Regions from separate parts of the Homo sapiens genome. Here region 2 is linked to region 1. A link means that fine-mapping ties the variant in region 1 to the plasma level of a protein whose gene starts in the linked region. Region 1 holds a variant in brackets. A gene starts in the other region. All regions are shown on their reverse strands.

Region 1 (8,325 bases):
GCAGGGTGGGCGGAGCCCCAGCAGCTAGTGAGGAGTTCCATTCCAGCCCACCCAGCTGGGGGACCCTCCTCTGGCTTCACTTGCCCCAGTTGAGGGCCAAGACCAAGCAGGAGAGACTGAGGCTCCAGTGAGAATGAGGCAGGACTTCAAATAAGCTGAAAAACAGGAATGTGGTGCTAAGAGGCCAGGGACTGAGCTGCCCTATGCCCACTGCCCGGGGCTGCCCTCCCTGCACAGCAGGGGAACCTGGACCCTGCTCCTGTCTTTTGTGTCAAAGGAGCTCTCTGTCCTAGCAACCCCAAGAAGCTTCACTGGAGCAACTCGTTTTCCTGAATTTCCCACACTTCTAGGCCAGACAAGGAGCAAGGGGTGGGAGGGGAGGGAATGGGGTCAGGGGGCTTGAGGTGCCTAGAGATGGCAGCTCCCTCTCCCGCCTCCTCCCCAGGTGGTTCAGGCTGCAGGGTGGCCAGCATGGCCCTTCAGGGCCCTTATCTTGGCCTGGAAGTAGGTGTACATGGCCAGCAGGCCCATGAAGGACAGGGAATAGAGCCCCACACAGAGGCTGATGTCCAGGTAAGAGAAGCCCCCTCCCAGCACCTGCAGCCACTGGCCTCGGCCCCGTCCAGCTCGGGCCTCCAGCTGGCCCTCAGGGATGTCGACCAGCTGCTTGGAGCTGCGGCCCACGCGCCTGACCTCCAAAGGGCCCCAGAGGCGGTTCTTCTCAGCCCTGGACTCAGCCAGCAATGCAGCCCCTGTGTCTCGCTTGCTCAAGTGCCACTGCCCAAGCGGCTGCTCCTGCTCATTCCTCTGAAGCTCTGCCATGTGCTCAGGAGGCTCCTGGCCTGGTGCAGCTCTGAGGCCAGGGTGCAGCTTCGGGGGTCGACTTGCCTCAGGTCCCTCAGCCGGCACATGTGGGGTGGTGTTTGTGGGGGACTTCATCATCTCAGGCTTCCCAGGGTCCAGAGTTGAATTCCGGCTTTCCAGCTCCAGGGCTCCCATCGCCAGCTCTGGGGCGGCTGCCACATTCTGCACATCCCTCCGGGCAGCTGACCCAGCTGCAGGGAAGTCCAGGATGATGTTGCTTGGGGAGAAGTGGGCCTTGAGGAAGTTGAGGGTGGCTTCCACGTCCCACACGGGCACATCCAGGCGTTCATTGTGGCAGGCAGAACAAAGTTCACGGGGTGGCCACTGCACCTTGGGGAACTGGGGGTCCTCGCTGGGGGCACCTACAGAGGGAAGCATACACAGGCTGGTGGTGACATCAGTCCCACCCAAAAACCCAGACCACACTCCTCCACTCAGAACGCCAGCTTCCTTGTCTGCAGAAAGGGCTCGCCACTGCCCTTCCAGAGGATGGGTAATTAGAAAATACAGATTACAAACACTAGCCCACAGTGGGAGCTCAACAGATGGCAGCATGGAGGAGGAGGCAGATCCACCTACCCCTCAGCCCCGGCCCTCCGTGGTTTTCCAGGGAAGCGTGAAGAGCGCCATCTCAGTCATTTCCCGGTGTTGGCCAGACCCACTGTCCTGCTATGTGGACTTTACAACCAGCCTTTACCCCAGTACCAGACATGGGAAAGGGCAAGAATACTCATTTTGATCTGTTTTGCAGTCTTTGGTCGGTCTGCTCGTGTTTGTCTTTTTTTGCATTTTTCTGACATTTTCCAAATTATACAAACTGCACAAATAGGTTACTTTGTCAATTCAAGGGAAAATGCGTTTTCAAGCAAGAGGCAGCTGCTCATGGCAATCCTTGCTTTTACCCAGCAGCAGCCCTCTGGGGTAGGGGTGGGCTCCAAGGGATAGTTGGGGGGAGACCTGAGGGGTACTTGGAAGAGTCAGGATGCTGCTGGGGCTGCAGGCTGTTGGTACCCCAGGTGGGCCCAGCCCTCTAGGCAGCCTCTGGATGAGTCCCAGAGGGTGAGCCACGGCCACCAGCCCCTCACGCAGTGTTGCCCAGGGAATGCATCAGCCCATCCCTTCTGTAGAAGCACTTCTCCTAAAGGTTTTAATAGGGGGACAAGTTGTTGACTACAAGGAAGCAGGAGCAGCAACAGCAAGTGGCATGCAAGTCAGAATGGTTACTTTGGGGAGGGGACAACAAGCAGAGTCAAGGGTCCAGTCATGAGTCATAGTGATCAGGCCTTGTGGAGGGGGCTCTCAGCTTGTGCCTGGTAATTTTGAGTTTCTTCTGAAAGGACCCCACCAGAGAGGGGAGGGAACCACCCTGCTTCTGGCCTCTCAGGGACAGGCCCAGGCTCCTGGCCCTCCAGCAGCAGCTGGGAGCCTGCCGAGGTCAAGGGGCTGAAGGGTCAAATGGAGCATTTGGTGGCAGGGGCGGGGTGGGGGAAGGAGAAGACAGGCACATGTCTTCCTTTCAAAGTTCGATAGGAGGCCCCAGGAGACCACGACCAAGTGCAGGCGCCTGCACCACCACCTGCTCCATTCAGCTCCTTTAACCTCGGCTCCGCCCTGGTCTCCCCCCCCCGGGAGGCTGTCACAGCCACGTGCACCGCTCCCTCCCGACACACAAACCGCCTCCTGTCCACAGATGGCTCCCTCCCGACCCAGCTCCCTGGAGTTTAATGTGTTTGCCTGTTAGAGCCATCAGACTCCTGATGAGGAAAAGGAAGCACCATAATGAGGGAACGCAGAGGGCAAGGCTCCCTCCTGGGAGCCGGTGCCTGGTATTTCCAGGAACGACCTGGTCTCCTCCAGCCCCTTCTCTCATCAGACCCTTCCCAGGGAGAGAGAACCCCAGCTCCCTCTGCCCTAGCAGTTTGAGTAAGGGGCCAACAGCCAGAAGACGGAGCAGGGGAGGCGGGAGAGGGACCCCAGTAGGCTAGAGAGGGGCCCTAGAGCAGGGAAAAAGTGAGCAACGGCATGGGAAGACCAGGGTCTTACAGTGTCAAAGCCTTGGCTTCCTCATGTCAAAAATGGGGCTGATGATACTGGCATTGGTTAACAGGCCTGGGCTGTGACTGAGGGGACAATGAGTGTCCCTTCCCCAAATTTTGGCCTAAGACTCCCAAGTATCCTCACCCCCTCGTCCCCCACAAGTGACTCCAGCCTTGGGGATGGTCCTTCCTTACCTGCAAGGCGAGCATTGACCCTGTTGTGGCTAGACCAGAGCCAGAGGACAGCGGCGTTGGGACTCCCCACCCGGTGCATGGAGGCAGCAGCCATCTGCTCGAAGTGGCTAGCGCAGTCTCGGCAGCCGAAGAAGTAG[T/C]GCACGTAGCCTCGGATGGCTGGGAGGACCTCCTTGGCCTTGGCTACAGGGCAGAGGAGATGCCACGCACCAGCCCTTCAGGCTGCCAGCCCCACAGCCGTTGCCTCCCCAGGCCACCCTGCCGCCCCCCATCCTGCCGTGGCCACCCCTGCACAGGTGCCACACACCCCAGCCTATGCCAGCAGAGGCCCAGTGTCCCCTTGTCTACTTCTCTACCTGCCATGGTCACTTTACAGGAGACCCCATCCCCCCAAAACTCCTAAACCTGGATCCCCTTCCCTGCCACTAACCTGGGTGCCTGTCACTCACACCCAGGACAAAGTCCACACTCCTTGGCAGGAAACTCAGGCTCTTTGTGACATGGTGAGAGAGGTCAGCAGGGGCCAGAGGGCCACCGCCCTAGCCCCTGGCCCTTCCTCCCCTGCCCACTCATGCTGCCTGTCCGACTTGCTTCCACCATGCGTCACCTCCCTCGGGCCTGGACCTGGCCTGCACATGCCCTTCCTAATCTGTCTCCATCTCTCCTCGCTCTCCCCTTCCATTCCCCCCACCCCCTCCCACCCACTGGACCCTCTGGACTGGCATCAGCAAAGACCTGTTAACCAGCCCCACTTTCTTGCTCTAACTGAAACCAGGCTCCCCGCTGAGGACACCACTCCTAATCCAACACGCCCCTCCTAAGCCCTTCACCCTCAGGCTCCAGGGCTGCTGGTGCTTGCCTCCAAGCTCGCTCCTTCCTACCGCAAACCTCCCAGGCCTTTAGAAGCCAATCTCCTGCTTTTACCCCTCCACGCAGCAGGACGTTGGCACCCTACTCTCCTCACTCCTGGCAAGGTGAGACCCGCAGCAGCCCACACCTGCCTCTCTCTCTCTCCTCTGCCTTCTCAGCTTGTTCTTCTGCACCCAGCACAGGTGCCCACCTCCCCACCACAAGGCCTCACCACACGGCCCTGGCGTTGCTCAGCCTCTGTCTCCGCTGCTGCTCGGGTTACCCCACTCCTCACCTCCAGGATTTCACTCCCGTTAGTGTTTTTTCTTTACTGCGTCATCCATTTATCCCCTGATAAGGGATCATTCCAACTGGGGAAAAGGATGATCATAAAGAAGTTCCCTCTAACCCAGTCATGCCCCAGTTCCTGCTCATTATCTCCAGAATCTTGCCTCCTGGTCTCTCTTCAGCCGAATCCAACAAGGCCATTACCTCCACTACTCCACCGACACAGCCCTTGCTAGAGATGTCCTCATCTTGCGCCACCTCCAGCTGCACTGGCCCCAGTGACTACACCTCTATCTTGAAACACTGGACTCTGGGGCCCCCTTGAAATCACCATGGCCTCCCCCGTTCAGCCTCCTTTGCTGGTGGTTTGATGCTCAGGATTCAGTCCTCAGCACTCTTCTCTACCTCCCTGCCAGGGAGCTCATCCAGTCCCACAGCTTGAGCTCTGATGCTACTAATGACTATAAAGCTAATCTCTCTATTCCCCACCTCTCCCTGGAACTCCAGACTCAACTGTGCACACCTCCATTGGGAGGTCTATTGACACAAAGCGGGCCATTGATTCCACCATCCCAACCCGAGCCCCTGACTCCTCAGCTTATGGGACCATCATCCACCAGAGGCTCAGGCCCCACAACCCTGGAGTCCACCCGAGTCCTGCTTCCCACATACCCTTCCTCCAATCTATCAGTAAGTCCCTCAGCTCTGCCTTTAACATATCCCCAAATCTGACCACTTCCTCCAGGGGCACACTGACAACCCTAGTCCAGGCCCAACCACCACTGCTGGGCGAGCATGCAGCTTGCTCCTCAGCTGCCCTGCCTCCCCCTGCCTGCAGTAGCCCATCCTCCACCTTTCTAAAGTGTTAACCAACTGTCACTTCCGTTAGCCTCTCCAGTGGCTTCTCAAAATGCCAACACCAACCTCCAAACCCTGCCCTCGCCAAGGCCTCTGAGCCCATGAGCGCTCACCTCCGCCCCCGGCCTGTCTCTGCAGCCTCACCTCCCTCCCTCCGGCCACAGCAGCCTTCTTTCAGTGCTGCCCACACACCAGGCTTGTCCTTTGCACCTGCTGGTCTCCAGCCTGTGCTATGGGCTGAATTATGTCCCCCCAAATTCCTATGTTGAAGCCCTAATCCCCAGCCTCTCAGAATGTGGCCGTATTTGGAGACAGGGTCTTTAAAGAGGTAATGAAGGTAAAATAAGGTCATTAGGGTGGGCCCTAATCCAATAGGACTGGTGTCCTTGCAGGAAGAGGAAATTTGGACATGGATTGGGAGAGGGACAACTGCACGGAGACACAAGGAGAAGACGACCACCGCCCAGCCAAGGAGAGGCTCGAAGAAACCAGCACAGACACCTCCACCTTGCACTTCAGCCTCCAGAACTCAGACAACAGACGTCTACTGGCTGAGCCCCAGCCTGACATTTGTGAGTGCAGCCCAAGGACACCAACACAGCCTGGGAGACTCTCTTCCCAGACGTCCCACACTGCCTTCTCCTCTCCACATGGGTCCCAGCACCGGGCCCTCCACAGGGAAGCCTTTCCCAGACCCCTCTCCAGACAGCACCCGCTCCGGCACTGCTTTGCTTTGTCTTCCTCAGCATTCGTCATCATGGCTGAAGCCATCCCTCTGTGTCTGTCTCCTGCCACTCAGATACTGGCCCTGTGGGGGCAGGGACCTGTCTCATATGCTGCTGTGTCCCCGGCACCTGCAGCGCCACATGGCATGGTGGAGATGCTCCATACACACTGGCTTCCCACACCACTGCCTGGCAGTTCCTCTGATTCACGGGGCTCCACACAGGCTGCTCCCTCTGCTGGGATGCTCCTCTCCTGGCGGAATCCCTACTCACCCATCACCCCTCAACTCACCCCGTAAGGCCTCGGGCCCCTTCCCAATGGCGTCGAGCCTGCCCTCTCTTCACCCCACATCTTTCTCTCCACCACGGCCCTAGCCCTGATGCACTGCAGGCCTCTCTGTCCCCCTGCCTCACACTAGAGGTCCACCAAGAGCGGGCACTGTCGCCCTTTTCACCCATGTATCTATCCTCCAAGCCAAGCCGCAGCCTGGTATAAACCTGGTTCCTCAATCAGTGTGGACTGAATTGGATGCGCATCCTTTCAGTCTTCAAAAGCAGGTGTGGGGCAGCGTGGCCGGAGAACATGGTGGTGCAGTTTGTGGACAATCCGAGGCAGCAGGGGAAACGTGTTTCCCCAACTTCCCCCAGGAAATTGTTTTTCAGTGGGAAGTGCAATAAAATTGCTCAAAGCACCTGCTATGTATCAGCTATGTAAACTGTAAAATACACGTTTTTTTCTTTGTTAAGAGTATAAAAAAATAGAATCACAATTTTTTCATGAAGACTGAAAGCAAAGCAAACTATAAGCCCGGAGAAAGACAGGGAGAAGCCTCAGCCCCAGAGCTCCCGGGGCCGAAAACAGGACTGGTTGAATTCCTAAAGTCTGCTCCCTCCTGGGATTGGTTCTATTCTGGCCGTGTGGGGCTACCTGCAGATAGAGCAATCCAGCCAGAGCCCCAAGGCTGACTCTCCCCATCTTCTGGCAGCTGGGAGCCAGTGGGGCAATTCAAGGGAGCTTCCCTGCCCCCTCTCCCCTTGGAGGGCCGAACAGAGCAGGGTTGGAGGCACAGTGGGGTGAACGGGTCCTGGACGTACCTGCTTCCTGTGAGTGGTCTACATTTTGCCGAGCTGCCTGCACAGTCAAGAAGTGGAAGAGGACCCACAGGGAGCAGGGAAAGCCCCGGAAATGCGGCTCACTCCCCTGGCAGCCAATCCAGTTCACCTTCTTGGCAAGAACGGCACCCTGAGGGACACATGAGTGTGAGTGCACATATGGAGAAGGAAAAGGATGGGAGAGGCAGAGACAGAAGCTTCTAGGAGACAGCCCTAAGACAAATGAGGTCCCTCAGTCTATCACCTCGAAGGTGGCATTTCCCTTTCACCAGTTCCACCCACTGAAGCAGCAGCAGACCTAAAAAGCTGTGACCCAGATCAAGCTGCATCCCGTTCCAGCCTCAACTTCCCCAGCTGTAACACAAGGGGGTTATCTCTGAGGTCCCTTCGAGATTTGACACCCTACAAGTCTACAGGGTTTTACACCTCTGCTGGCTGCAGTGACCCACTTTTGCAAATAGCAGCATGAGCAGGAGCCCAGAAGGTGCCCTGGAGAGGGCCAGGGAGGCCATGCTGAGCAGCACCACAAACTAAGAGGCAGCACAGGGTAGTTGTTAAAAACTCTGGGGTCTCACCAAGTTTTCATCCCAGCCCAAACACTTACTGGCTCCATGAACCCAGACAAGTTGCTTAACCTTTTCAAAGTACTGTTTCTTCATCTGCTAAATGGGGAGAATATCTACCTTCCACTAACATTATGAGGATTAAATGAGATGTGCGCATAGAGAGCTCAATCAATAGTCATTTATTGATTATTGTTAGGACCCAACGAAGATCACTGACTCCCTGGTGCAAACTGGCGAAGAAGGTCAGAAATGACAGGGTTAACCCCTTGCACTCTCATAAATACGGAGGATGGAGAGATCTTTATTTGCTTCCCAGACTCACCTCTTTCCTGTCGTCCAGGGCAGTTTTAAAGAAACTGTAGGGAATTTTATTTCTCTTCTGCCTCTTGAGCCATTCATTCACGGAGTGCAGGAAGTTCTGGACTAAGGGCCGGCCAGGGAAATACTGTGGGGAGGAACAAGCGGAAGCTGGAGAGTGAAAAGCAATTCCCCAAGTTCCCCGTCCTGCAGATGGTAGGAAGCTATGCAGAAGAAGGCGGGGGGCGGGGGGCGGGGGGCAGTGGGGAGGAGGTTGTGCAAAGTTCCAAAACCACCAGGAAAACATTCTAACTAAGACACAAATATGACTTCTGTACTACCTTTGCTCTGGGACACCTGGTAAGGCTAGAAGACAGGGTAGGGAAGGTGCTCGCTCTAAATGGGGTGGGGTCCTGGAAGTCTCCCTCTCTCAGACCTCAGGCTCCTGTGCAGCACCCCCCGACCATGTGCCACCACTGGGAGGAAGGCTGGAGCACTTGTGCCCCTTGCCAGGGCTGCTGGGAGCCCTGGGCCACA
Region 2 (8,325 bases), not on the chromosome of region 1:
GCCACCCCGTCCGGGAGGTGAGGGGCGCCTCTGCCCGGCTGCCCCTACTGGGAAGTGAGGAGCCCCTCTGCCCGGCCACCACCCCGTCTGGGAGGTGTACCCAACAGCTCATTGAGAACGGGCCATGATGACAATGGCGGTTTTGTGGACTAGAAAGGTGGGAAAGGTGGGGAAAAGATTGAGAAATCGGATGGTTGCCATGTCTGTGTAGAAAGATGTAGACGTGGGAGACTTTTCATTTTGTTCTATACTAAGAAAAATTCTTCTGCCTTGGGATCCTGTTGATCTGTGACCTTACCCCCAACCCTGTGCTCTCTGAAACATGTGCTGTGTCCACTCAGGGTTAAATGGATTAAGGGCGGTGCAAGATGTGCTTTGTTAAACAGACGCTTGAAGGCAGCATGCTCGTTAAGAGTCATCACCACTCCCTAATCTCAAGTACCCAGGGACACAAACACTGCGGAAGGCCGTGGGGTCCTCTGCCTAGGAAAACCAGAGACCTTTGTTCACTTGTTTATCTGCTGACCTTCCCTCCACTATTGTCCTGTGACCCTGCCAAATCCCCCTCTGCGAGAAACACCCAAGAATGATCAATAAAAAAATAATAATTAAAAAAAAAAAAGAAAAAAAAAAGAAAAGAAACCACAGTGGCCGATTGCAGTGGCTCACTCCTGTAATCCCAGCACTTTGGGAGGCCGAGGCGGGCAGATCACGAGGTCAGGAGATCGAGACCATTCTGGCTAACACGGTGAAACCCCATCTCTATTAAAAATACAAAAAAAAAATAGCCGGGCGTGGTGGTGGTTGCCTGTAGTCCCAGCTACTCAGGAGGCTGAGGCAGGAGAATGGCGTGAACCTGAGAGGCGGAGGTTCAGTGAGCTGAGACCCTGCCACTGCACTCCAGCCTGAGTGACAGAGCGGGACTCTGTCTCAAAAAAAAAAAAAAAAACACACAGCTTAGTTTTCAGTGACTCCAAATTAGGAAAATGAAAAAAAAGAAGGAAAAAAATTGAAAACTTAATTTGAAGACTTGTAGCCAAGAAAAATTCATTCCAAACTGTAGAAAATCATAAAAATTGGAAGCAAACAAACAAAAAAACAGTTAAGACTAGAATCTAACAACAGGTGAACATTCGTTTTGAAACATGATTTTATTCTCTCTCCAATTTCCCATTTTACTAAAGACAAATCATGGTATGACTTGTTTGCTTATTATACTTGGCCTAAATATTTGTATACAGTGCAGCAAGAATAATTTATTTTGTCCCATAAGAGGAATCTCAGGTAAGACTTTTTAAAGCCCTGCCCAGCCATGGATTTGTGCCATCAAATACCCATGAGTTGGATGGAATTTCCTCTCCTTTCAAGTTCCAAGATAAACATAAACCTGGGGCCTCTGTGCCTGTCAGAAAGTGACATCCTTTTTTTTTTGATCAGGCTAGTCTTGAATTCCTGACCTCAGGTGATCCTCCCGCGTTGGCCTCCCAAAGTGCTGGGATTACAGGCATGAGCCACCACTCCTGGCCCCAGAAAGTGACATTCTTTACTTACCACAGGTAAGAAATCCTGTACAGGGACTGTGTACACAAAATGTGAGGCCAGTTTTCCCAAGGGCTTTATTGGCTCCATAAGTTAAGTTTGATTCCTTAAACGAAAGCACACCATTCCTGTCAAAGTCTTGGTCAAATAATCAATTCCTCCAATTGTGTCCTGTTACAAATGAAAACAGATTCTTTTTTTTTTTTTTTTTTTTGGTGGAGTCTGGCTCTGTTGCCCAGGCTGGAGTGCAATGGTGCAATCTCAGCTCACTGCCACCTCTGCTTCCCAGGTTCAAGCGATTCTACTGCCTTAGCCTCTGGAGTAGCTGGGATTACAGGCATGTGCCACCATGCCCAGCTAATTTTTGTGTTTTTAGTAGAGATGGGGTTTTGCCATGTTGGCCAGGCTGGTCTCGAACTCACAACCTCAGGTGATTTGCCCACCTTGGCCTCCCAAAGTGCTGGGATTACAGGAGTGAGCCACCATGCCAGGCAAAAACAGATTCTTATGGCACTTATGCAAATAACTGTATTGCCATAAGTTAAGAATACTCACAAATAGTTTCCAAATTCTGGAGAAATCAGGTAGAGAAACAAATATGCTCCAAATTTTGTTCATAGGACTGTACTAAATTGTTAAAAGCTGTTGGCCAGGCACGGTGGCTCACGCCTGTAATCCCAGCATTTTGGGAGGCCGAGGCAGGCAGATCACGAGGTCAGGAGTTCAAGACCATCCTGACCAACATGCTGAAACTCTGTCTCTACTAAAAATACAAAAATTAGCCAGGTGTAGTGGTGTGCACCTGTAATCCCAGCTACTCGGGAGGCTAGGGGAGGAGAATCGCTTGAACCCAGGAGCCAGAGGTTGCAGTGAGCCGAGATCCTGCCATTGCACTCCAGCCTGGGTGACAGAGTGAGACTTCGTCTAAAAAAAAAAAAAAAGGCCAGGCACGGTGGCTCATGCCTGTAATCCCAGCACTTTGGGAGGCCAAGGTGGGCAGATCACGAGGTCAGGAGATCGAGACCACGGTGAAACCCTGTCTCTACCAAAAATACAAAAAATTAGCCGGGCGCGGTGGTGGGCGCCTGTAGCCCCAGCTACTCAGGAGGCTGAGGCAGGAGAATGGCATGAACCTGGGAGGTGGAGCTTGCAGTGAGCTGAGATCGCGCCACTGCACTCCAGCCTGGGTGACAGAGCGAGAATCCATCTCAAAAAATAATAATAATAATAATATATAATACGACAACGTGGCCTGACATGGTGGCTCACGCCTGTAATCCTAGCATTTTGGGAGGCCAAGGCAGGCGGATCACCTGAGGCGAGGAGTTTGAGACCAGCCAAGCCAATATGCTGAAACCCCATGTCTACCAAAAATACAAAAATTAGCCAGGTGTGGTGGCACATGCCTGTAAACCCAGCTACTGGGGAGGCTGAGGCAGGAGAATCACTTGAACCCAGGAGGCAGAGGTTGCAGTGAGCCAAGATTGCACCACTGCACTTCAGCCTGGGCAACAAAGCAAGACTCTACCCTGAAGAAAAAAGTATACGACAACTTGATTATATAAAAGTTTTTGGGTTTTTGGCCGGGCACGGTGGCTCACACCTGTAATCTCAGCACTTCTGGAGGCCGAGGCAGGTGGATCACGAGGTCAGGAGATCAAGACCATCCTGGCTAACATGGTGAAACCCTGTCTCTACTAAAAACACAAAAAAATTAGCCAGGCATGATGGCGGGCCCCTGTAGTCCCAGCTACTCAGAAGGCTGAGGCAGGAGAATGGCGTGAACCCGGGAGGCAAGCTTGCAGTGAGCCGAGATTGCGCCACTGCACTCCAGCCTGGGTGATAGAGCGAGACTCCGTCTCAAAAAAAAAAAAAAAGTTTTTGGGTTTTTTGTGACTTACACTGACTGTTCATGACATGGTTGGACTTTCCAATTTGTTCTGAACATCCCTCCTTTTTATTTATTTTGGGTTTTTTTTTTTTTTTTTTTTTTTTCAGATGGAGTCTTGCTCTGTCACCCAGGCTGGAGTGCAGTGGCATGATCTCCGCTCACTGCAAGCTCCGCCTCCCGGGTTCACGCCATTCTCCTGCCTCAGCCTCCCGAGTAGCTGGGACTACAGGCGCCCACCACCACGCCCAGCTTAATTTTTTGTATTTTTAGTAGAGACAGGGTATCACCATGTTAGCCAGGATGGTCTTGATCTCCTGACCTTGTGATCCGCCCGCCTCGGCCTCCCAAAGTGCTGGGATTACAAGCGTGAGCCACTGCGTCCGGCCCTATTTTGGTTTATTTTTTATTTTTTATTTTTTTCTTGAGACTGAGTCTTGCTGTCACCCAGGCTGGAGTGCAGTGGCATGATCTCAGCTCATTGCAACCTCTGCCTCCCAGGTCAAGCGATTCTCCTGCCTCAGCCTCCCAAGTAGCTGGGATTATAGGCACACACCACTAAGCCTGGCTAATTTTTGTATTTTTAGTAGAAACAGGGTTTCGCCATGTTGGCCAGGTTGGTTTCAAACTCCTGACCTCAAATGATCCTCCTGCCTCAGTCTCCCAAAGTGCTAGGATTATGTGTGAGCCACTGCACCCGGCTTATTTTTTTTTTTTTTTAGCAGAGTCTTGCTCTGTCACCCAGGCTAGAGGGCAGTGGCGCAATCTCAGCTCACTGCAACCTCCGCCTTCCAAGTTTAAGTGATTCTCCTGCCTCAGCCTCCTGAATAGCTGGGATTATAGGTGTGGGCCACCATGCCTGGATAATTTTTGTGTTTTTGTTGTTGTTGTTGTTGTTGTTGAGATGGAGTCTTGCTCTGTCACTGAGGCTGGAGTAACAGTAGCATGATCTCGGCTCACTGCAACCCCCACCTCCCAGGTTGAAGCAATTCTCCTGCCTCAGCCTCCTGAGTAGCTGGGATTACAGGCACCCACCACCATGCCGGGCTAATTTTTGTATTTTTAGTAGAGATAGGTTTCACCATGTTGGCCAAGCTGGTCTCAAACTCCCGACCTCAGGTGACCCGCCCACCTCGGCCTCCCAAAGTGTTGGGATTACGGGTGTGAGCCACCACTCCCAGCCAAAAAAAATTTTTTTAATCTTATTACCATATTTCAGCTAGAACAAAATGCTGCTAAAGTAACAATGATCACACAAAGTATATGATTTCTGAGTGCTGTAAGTGTAAGCAGAAGTTAACACCAGCTGGTTGTTAAATGCTAACTTTAGTCATTTAAAGGAAATTGCAAGGCAGAATCCCAAGCCAGTTTCTTACCTAGTGATGGGTCTCAGGCTGTAGACTGCTCTCTACCATCCCAGAAGCAGGAAAAAAAAACTAATTTTCCCTGTTGGAAGCGAGCTCAAACTCCATAAAGGAGTTACCTGCCTTCCATCGTCATGGAAGCAGAAAAACTTGCTTTCCTTTTGGGAGCAAGTAAAACTCCAAAAAAAAAAAAAAAAAAAAAAAGAGTTGTACAGCAAAATAAACTTTAGATCTCAACCAATTGAGAAATCAAGGATTCTCTGGAGGGGGTGCTCCCAGACCTCAGCAAATTGTCCTATTGGTTTGAGCCATAAAGTTAGCTCCTGCTGGTACCAAGCACAGATAGGCAATTAGTCAAAAGTCAAGGACATCTCCACACAGAATCCATCCATAGTTACCAAATGTGAACCCAGAAAATCTGAGACAGCTCTCAGTTAATTTAAAAAGTTTATTTTGCTGAGGTTGAAGATGCATCCAAGACACAGCCTCAGGAAGTCCTGATGACATGTGCCCAAGGTGTTCCGGGCACAGCTTGGTTTTATACATTTTAGGGAGATATGAGACATCTATCAATACGTAAGAAGTACCTTAGCCAAGCGTGGTGGCTCAAGCCTGTAATCCCAGCACTTTGGGAGGCCAAGGTGGGCAGATCACAAGGTCAGGAGTTCAAGACCAGCCTGGCCAATATGGTGAAACCCTGTCTCTACTAAACATATAAAAATTAGCTGGGTGTGGTGGCACGCGCCTGTAGTCCCAGCTACTCTGGAGGCTGAGGCAGGAGAATCGCTTGAACCCGGGAGCCAGAGGTTGCAGTGAGCCGAGATCATGCCATTGCACTCCAGCCTGGGCGACAGAGTGAGACTTCATCTAAAAAAAAATTAGGCCAGGCGCGGTGGCTCACACCTGTAATCCCAGCACTTTGGGAAGCTGAGGCAGGCAGATCACAAGGTCAGGAGATCGAGACCATCCTGGCTAACACGGTGAAACCTCGTCTCTACTAAAAATACAAAAAATTAGCCAGGCGTGGTGGCGGGCGCCTGTAGTCCCAGCTACTCGGGAGGCTGAGGCAGGAGAATGGCATGAACCCGGGGGGCAGAGCTTGCAGTGAGCTGAGATCGCACCACTGCACTCCAGCCTGGGCGACAGAGCGAGACTCCGTCTCAAAAAATAAAAATAAAAAAAAAACAGAAGTACATAAGCTCTGTCCAGAGAGGTGGAGACAGCTCAAAGCACGGCCCCCCACTGGGGGCTTCCAGGTCACAGGCAGGTGACAGACAGATGGTTGCATTCTTTTGAGTTTCTGGTAGTCTTTCCAAAAGAGGCAATGGAGGCAATCATAATATGCATCTATGTCTGTAAGCAAAAGGATGACTTGAATAGAATGGGAGGCAGATTTGTCCTGAGCGGTTCCCAGCTTGAAGGGGCCCAAGATATTTTCCTTTCACATATTGAACAAGTGAAACCACAAATGAATGAACAAGCATGTGCTCACTGACAGCTCATATGCATGGTCACACAAACACAGGATCTCATGCTCACAAGACAGCAGGGCTCACACACACCCAGTCCCAGGCACTGGGTTCCACACTCACACCTACTTGCCACTGGAATTTGTGCAGAGGCTCAGATGGTCACTAAATGGGGCTTCACAAAGACACAGTCACTAACCCAGCACATATACAAAGGGTGATGACACAGCCCTGACTTCATGAACACAGTGCCTTTCAGAAACAGGTCCCTACAACAGGGATGACTTATCCACTAAGCACAATAGACCCAAGGCCTAGGGCCACAGTACTTTCAGGGGCCCACAAAATGTTTTTTTAATCAGAAGAAGAATATAAATGTAAATATATTAATAATTAATATATAATAGTGTAACCCAGACATGACCTCCTGGGCTCAAGCACTCCTCCTGCCTCAGTGTCCCAAGTAGCTGGGACTACAGGTACATACCACCATGCCCAGCTAATTTTTAATTTTTTTGTAGAGATGGGGTCTTGCTACATTGCCTAGGCTGGTCTCGAACTCCTGGGCTCAAGCAATTCTCCCACCTCAGCCTCCCAAAGTGCTAAGACTATAGCCATATATATATATATATATATATATATATATATATATATATATTTTTTTTTTTTTTTTTTTTTTTGAGATGGAGTCGCTCTCTGTCACCCAGGCTGGAGTATAGTAGCACAGTGGAGCAGTCTTGGCTCACTGCAACCTCTGCCTCCCGGGTTCAAGGGATTGTCCTGCCTCAGCCTCCCGAGTAGCTGGGATTACAGGCGCCTGCCACCACGCCCGGCTAATTTTTTGTATTTTTAGTAGAGAAGGGGTTTCACCATGTTAGCCGGGATGGTCTCGATCTCCTGACCTCGTGATCTGCCACCTCGGCTTCCCAAAGTGCTAGGATTATAGGCGTGAGCCTCCGCACCTGGCATGCCTGGCCATATTTTAAAATATTTTTTTTAAGGAGGAAAAGATCCACGAAAGTAAAGTGCCTAGGGCCCATCAATGTCAGATGCAGCCACGTGGACAAAGAACACTCCCTGAGCACAAGACACGAAAGAACCCGGTCTCCAGTGTCACAAACAGGCCTGCCCAGCAGGGTCTGCCCCTGCCCACCTCCTCCAGCCTAGGTAAGGCCACAAAGCCCTGCCCTAGTGCTGACAGCGTGGGAGGGGCCACTGTTGGCCCAGCCCCACCCCCAACCAAGATCCCTTTGCCAGGGATTCAGAGGTAGCCCTGATGCCTGGCTGGCCTGGCCTCCTAATCCAAGGCCCGCCCCTTGGCCCGCCCCTGGCCTGGGTGGGGTGACCCCCTACAAAAGCTCAGAATTTCCAGCAGCGGCTCCTTCCTCCAGGAGTCTCTGGTGCAGCTGGGGTGGAATCTGGCCAGGCCCTGCTTAGGCCCCCATCCTGGGGTCAGGAAATTTGGAGGATAAGGCCCTTCAGCCCCAAGGTCAGCAGGGACGAGCGGGCAGACTGGCGGGTGTACAGGAGGGCTGGGTTGACCTGTCCTTGGTCACTGAGGCCATTGGATCTTCCTCCAGTGGCTGCCAGGATTTCTGGTGGAAGAGACAGGAAGGCCTCCCCCCCTTGGTCGGGTCAGCCTGGGGGCTGAGGGCCTGGCTGTCAGCCACTCTTCCCAGAACATATGTCATGGCCTCAGTGGCTCATGGGGAAGCAGGGGTGGGCGAGCTTAGGCTAGAGCAAGTCCTGTGGGAGATGGCAGAGGCCTGGTCTGAGAGGCAACTCGGATGTGCCCTCCAGTGGCCATGCTCCCCTCCATGCGTCTCCCCTGCCCTCCTGGAGCCCTGCAGGTCAATGTTTAACAGAAACCAGAGCAGCGGTGGATTAATGCGCAAGGGCTCAGCCCCCCAGCCCTGAGCAGTGGGGGAATCGGAGACTTTGCAACCTGTTCTCAGCTCTGCCTCCCCTGGCCAGGTTGTCCTCGACCAGTCCCGTGCCATGGCAGCCCACCTGCTTCCCATCTGCGCCCTCTTCCTGACCTTACTCGATATGGCCCAAGGCTTTA

Alleles and levels. Alleles are on the strand shown, and positions count from the first base shown. The strength of an association depends on the size of the effect and on how common the allele is.
As copies of C replace T in region 1, the plasma level of the protein whose gene starts at base 7,641 in region 2 goes down (weak association).

Evidence for each region. PIP is the chance, under the fine-mapping model, that this variant and not a neighbour inherited with it causes the effect. Protein levels are from antibody-based Olink assays in UK Biobank. Linkage for the fine-mapping came from a reference panel and not from the study's own genotypes, which makes the PIPs less certain.
Region 2: it holds the start of HYAL1, and the variant in region 1 is fine-mapped to the plasma level of the HYAL1 protein (UK Biobank, PIP 0.92).

The regions. Positions count from the first base shown.
Region 1 is chr1:180,189,163-180,197,487 of GRCh38, reverse strand. It overlaps QSOX1 (quiescin sulfhydryl oxidase 1), which reads right to left. Exons shown (of 12, transcript NM_002826.5): 9 at 7,814-7,936; 10 at 6,908-7,055; 11 at 3,096-3,275; 12 at 1-1,226. The coding sequence ends at 451. Among named protein-coding and RNA genes, the nearest start is that of LHX4, 37 kb to the left of the region's middle. RefSeq lists enhancers at 1,379-1,548, 3,447-3,616, 3,918-4,589. The variant T/C (reference allele first, on the strand shown) is at 3,233.
Region 2 is chr3:50,302,890-50,311,214 of GRCh38, reverse strand. It overlaps HYAL1 (hyaluronidase 1), which reads left to right and starts at 7,641. Exons shown (of 4, transcript NM_033159.4): 1 at 7,641-7,749; 2 at 8,235-8,325. The coding sequence starts at 8,259. RefSeq lists enhancers at 7,236-7,405, 7,223-8,157.